2 separate regions of the Homo sapiens genome follow, and region 2 is linked to region 1. A link means that fine-mapping ties the variant in region 1 to the expression of a gene that starts in the linked region. Tissue or cell type: whole blood. Region 1 holds a variant in brackets; the other region holds the start of a gene. All regions are shown on one strand. Distances are between the middles of the regions.

Region 1 (2,760 bases):
ATGGCTGGGTCAAATGGTATTTCTAGGTCTAGATCCTTGAGGAATCGCCACACTGTCTTCCACAATGGTTGAACTAGTTTACAGTCCCACCAACAGTGTAAAAGTATTCCTATTTCTCCACATCCTCTCCAGCACCTGTTGTTTCCTGACTTTTTAATGATCGCCATTCTAGCTGGTGTGAGATGGTATCTCATTGTGGTTTTGATTTGCATTTCTCTGATGGCCAGTGATGATGAGCATTTTTTCATGTATCTGTTGGCTGCATAAATGTCTTCTTTTGAGAAGTGTCTGTTCATATCCTTCACCCATGTTTCGATGGGGTTGTTTTTTTCTTGTAAGTTTGTTTGAGTTCTTTGTAGATTCTGGATATTAGCCCTTCGTCAGATGAGTAGATTGCAAAAATTTTCTCCCATTCTGTAGGTTGCCTGTTCACTCTGATGGTAGTTTCTTTTGCTGTGCAGAGGCTCTTTAGTTTAATTAGATCCCATTTGTCAATTTTGGCTTTTGTTGCCATTGCTTTTGGTGTTTTAGACATGAAGTCCTTGCCCATGCCTATGTCCTGAATGGTATTGTCTAGGTTTTCTTCTAGGGTTTTTATGGTTTTAGGTCTAACATTTAAGTCTTTCATCCATCTTGAATTAATTTTTGTATAAGGTGTAAGGAAGGGATCCAGTTTCAGCTTTCTACATATGGCTAGCCAGTTTTCCCAGTACCATTTATTAAATAGGGAATCCTTTCCCCATTTCTTGTTTTTGTCAGGTTTGTCAAAGATCAGATGGTTGTAGATGTGTGGTATTATTTCTGAGGGCTCTGTTCTGTTCCATTGGTCTATATCTCTGTTTCAGTATCAGTACCATGCTGTTTTGGTTACTGTAGCCTTGTAGTGTAGTTTGAAGTCAGGTGGCATGATGCCTCCAGCTTTGTTCTTTTGGCTTAGGATTGTCTTGGCAATGTGGGTTCTTTTTTGGTTCCATATGAACTTTAAAGTAGTTTGTTTTCCAATTCTTTGGGGAAAGTCACTGGTAGCTTGATGGGGATGGCATTGAATCTATAAATTACCTTGGGCAGCACGGCCATTTTTACGATATTGATTCTTTCTATCCATGAGCTTGGAATGTTCTTCCATTTGTTTGTGTCCTCTTTTATTTTGTTGAGCAGTGGTTTGTAGTTCTCCTTGAAGAGGTCCTTCACATACCTTGTAAGTTGGATTCCTACGTATTTTTTTCTCTTTGAAGCAATTGTGAATGGGAGTTCACTCATGATTCGGCTCTCTGTTTGTCTGTTATTGGTGTATAAGAATGCTTGTGATTTCTGCACATTGATTTTGTATCCTGAGACTTTGCTGAAGTTGCTTATCAGCTTAAGGAGATTTTGGGCTGAGACGATGGGGTTTTCTAAATATACAATCATGTCATCTGCAAACAGGGACAATTTGACTTCCTCTTTTCCTAATTGAATACCCTTTTTTTTTTTTTTTTTTTTTAGTATTTATTGATCATTCTTGGGTGTTTCTCAGAGAGGGGGATGTGGCAGGGTCATAGGATAATAGTGGAGAGAAGGACAGCAGATAAACACATGAACAAAGGTCTCTGGTTTTCCTAGGCAGAGGTCCCTGC[A/G]GCCTTCCACAGTGTTTGTGTCCCTGGGTACTTGAGATTAGGGAGTGGTGATGACTCTTAACGAGCATGCTGCCTTCAAGCGTCTGTTTAACAAAGCACATCTTGCACCGCCCTTAATCCATTTAACCCTGAGTTGACACAGCACATGTTTCAGAGTGCACGGGGTTGGGGGTAAGGTTATAGATTAACAGCATCCCATGCAGAAGAATTTTTCTTAGTACAGAACAAAATGGAGTCTCCTATGTCTACTTCTTTCTACACAGACACAGTAACAATCTGATCTCTCTTTCTTTTCCCCAAATTTCCCCATTTTCTTTTCCACAAAACCGCCATCGTCATCATGGCCCGTTCTCGATGGTCGCTGTCTCTTCGGAGCTGTTGGGTACACCTCCCAGATGGGGCGGCCAGGCAGAGGCGCTCCTCGCCTCCCAGATGGGGCGGCCAGGCAGAGGCACTCCTCACCTCCCAGACGGGGTGGCCAGGCAGAGGCGCTCCTCACCTCCCAAACGAAGGGCACCAGGCAGAGGCACTCCTCACCTCCCAGACGGGGCGGCCGGGAAGAGGCGCTCCCCACTTCCCAGACGGGGTGGCCGGGCAGAGGCGCTCCCCGCTTCCCAGATGGGGTGGCGGCCGGGCAGAGGCGCTCCTCACATCCCAGACGGGGCAGCCGGGCAGAGGCGCTCCTCACTTCCCAGATGCGGCAGCCAGGCAGAGGTGCTCCTCACCTCCCAGACGGGGCGGCCGAGCAGAGGCGCTCCTCACCTCCCAGACGGGGCGGCCGGGCAGAGGCGCTCCTCACATCCCAGACGGGGTGGCCGGGCAGAGGCGCTCCTCACCTCCCAGACGGGGTGGCCGGGCAGAGGCACTCCCCGCTTCCCAGATGGGGTGGCGGCCGGGCAGAGGCGCTCCTCACATCCCAGACAGGGCAGCCAGGCAGAGGCGCTCCTCACTTCCCAGATGCGGCAGCCGGGCAGAGGCGCTCCTCACCTCCCAGACGGGGTGGCCGGGCAGAGGCGCTCCCCACTTCCCAGAAGGGGTGGCAGCTGGGCAGAGGCGCTCCTCACCTCCTAGACGGGGCGGCCGGGCAGAGGCGCTCCTCACATCCCAGACGGGGGGGGGGGGCAGCTGGGCAGAGGCACTCCTC
Region 2 (2,500 bases), 130 kb before region 1:
GCAACAAATACAGCTCAAGGAAAAGCTGGTTTTGGAAAGTCACACTCCACACCCAGGAAATCTCTTCAAATCTGCATACAAAAATGGAAAGCAAAGCCATCACTTAGTACAATGTCCTTTTAAAAGATGTTATGTCACTACTTTGCACTGGAGTGAACAATATTTTTATAATATGTTACTAATTAAAACAAGAATATAAATACATAAGGAGTACAGGAAGTGAATTAGGGAAGGGTATAAGACAAAACTAAAACCTTTTCTATTACAGAATGTTCTCAATGGTTTTAAATGCATACTTTTTCTTTTTTTTTTTTTTTTTGAGACGGAGTCTCGCTCTGTCGCCCAGGCTGGAGTGCAATGGCGCAATCTCGGCTCACTGCAAGCTCCGCCTCCTCGGTTAACGCCATTCTCCTACCTCAGCCTCCCGAGAAGCTGGGACTACAGGCGCGTGTCACCACACCCGGCTAATTTTTTGTATTTTTTGTAGAGACGGGGTTTCACCGTGTTAGCCAGGATGGTCTCGATCCTCTGACCTCCTGATCCGCCCGTCTTGGCCTCCCAAAGTACTGGGAATACAGGCGTGAGCCACCGCGCCCGGCCTGGTTTTACTTTTAACAAGAGGAGTGGGCCGCACGCGGTGGCTCACGCCTGTAATCCCAACACTTTGGGAGGCCGAGGCGGGCGGATCACGAGGTCAGGAGTTCCAGACCAGCCAGGCCAATATGGTGAAACCCCGTCTCTACAAAAAAACACAAAAATTGGCCAGGCGTGGTGGCGCGCCTGTAGTCCCAGCTACTTGGGAGCTGAGGCAGGAAAATCACTGGAACCCGGGAGGCAGAAGTTGCAGTGAGCCCAGATTGCGCCACTGCACTCCAGCCTGGACTACAAGAGCGAAACTCCGTCTCAAAAAAAAAAACAAAAACAAAAACAAAAAAAAAACCTAACAACAGCAACAACAACAAAAAAAATAGGAACCATTCGGCCTGTTTCCACATCTGTACAACAAGCTAAATCATCCCTACCCTGCCTACCTCGTTGAACAGGCATTTTTTGTGAGAGCAACGAACCTGAAATGTTAACACCAACACTGACGTCTACAATTACCGTTACCGTTTTTAATAACCACTCAGGTACCTCCGACTGTTCTGCGCCTGCTCCACGTCACTAAACTCGCTACCGCCTGCTCCCCTCCAGAGACCGGGGGCCTTCCAGCAGTTTTCGGACCCCCGAGCACAGAGACCGCCAAGCCAAAGGCGAGTAGCAATCCCTCGGTTCGGAAACGGCGAAAGGAAACCGCAAGGAGGCCACCACGTCGGGTGGGAGCTACGAAGTTGCCCGTTCCCGGTTACTTCCGGGCTTGCGAGCGACGACTGCTCTCAAAGGCCAAACTTAATGGATGGACGAGCAGCGCGCTACTGCAGCTTTCTTCCGCCTTAGGAAGGTGGCGGCCAGGGATGAGGAGGCCCCTAAGCAAGTGCGGAATGGAGCCGGGGGGCGGAGATGCCAGCCTCACTTTGCATGGTCTCCAGAACCGCTCCCACGGCAAGATAAAGCTGCGAAAGAGAAAGTCTACCTTGTACTTCAACACCCAGGAGAAGAGCGCCAGGCGCCGCGGGGGTGAGTGAGGGGACACTGTCTGGAGAGCTCCTACCCCCATCTAAAAGGAACCCCCTCCATTTCATTACCAGCCAGTTGCCCGTTGAGCTCTGTGTTGCCAGATCTTGAGTTTTGAAATGCTGGGAAATGCTGGAAACACAGATTTTAATATAAATTCTGATTTTTAAATGTTGGCAACTAAATTCAATTTTTTAAAAAATACTCTGTATTTGGCCGACAGGCTGTCCATTTGTGGTCAAGAGCAGGACTTTGGAGACATCACACAGACCCGGGTTTGAATCCTGATAAGTAATTTACAACTTTATTTGGACAAGGCAGTTTAATTTCTGGGCCTCAATTTGCTCGTCTGTAAAATGGGGCTAATAATACCTATCCCATAATATTGTTTGGAGGATTAAGTGAGATGCATGTGAAGAAATTAACACAGTGCCTGGCATATATAATAGTAATCATCAATATATATGTACAGAGGACCATTTTATATTGCACATATACAAAGGGCTGCTTCCCAAATTAGTAATTTGTTAGCTGGTTTCTTTCATTAGATACACACATAGTATGACCTAATTAATTAGCCTAAGGCCTTAGTTAACCCACTCTTTTTTTTTTGTATTTATTTTAATATTATCTTTACACAATAAGTTGCAAGAAAAGTTGGTTAAACTAAAAGAGTGGCAGTCACCCAGTGATGACGCTGTGGTGCTTGTATAACCAACCAAGTTGGCTTTAAGAATGGTGTGGAGGGACCAGAGGTCACTACTGTGCCTTACAAGGAGCCAACCAGAGCAGCAGATTTTAAGTTTTGCAAGTGGAACTGCCTGACTTTTGTGCCACTATTACCTGTTTTGTTCTGTTTTTCAGATCTTCTTGGAGAAAATATTTA

Evidence for each region. PIP is the estimated chance that this variant, and not a neighbour inherited with it, causes the effect.
Region 2: it holds the start of PIGB, and the variant in region 1 is fine-mapped to the expression of PIGB in whole blood (TOPMed, PIP above 0.99).

Annotation. Positions count from the first base shown.
Region 1 is chr15:55,443,571-55,446,330 of GRCh38, forward strand. The region is part of intron 6 of DNAAF4 (dynein axonemal assembly factor 4); the gene reads right to left. The region is part of intron 5 of DNAAF4-CCPG1 (DNAAF4-CCPG1 readthrough (NMD candidate)); the gene reads right to left. Among named protein-coding and RNA genes, the nearest start is that of PIERCE2, 36 kb to the left of the region's middle. The variant A/G (reference allele first, on the strand shown) is at 1,617.
Region 2 is chr15:55,317,797-55,320,296 of GRCh38, forward strand. It overlaps PIGB (phosphatidylinositol glycan anchor biosynthesis class B), which reads left to right and starts at 1,426. Exons shown (of 12, transcript NM_004855.5): 1 at 1,426-1,617; 2 at 2,479-2,500. The coding sequence starts at 1,455. PIGBOS1 (PIGB opposite strand 1) reads right to left here and starts at 1,327. Exons shown (of 2, transcript NM_001308421.2): 1 at 1,068-1,327; 2 at 1-71. It also overlaps a transcript of RAB27A not described here. RefSeq lists enhancers at 1,186-1,255, 1,306-1,395, 1,456-1,535, 1,606-1,685.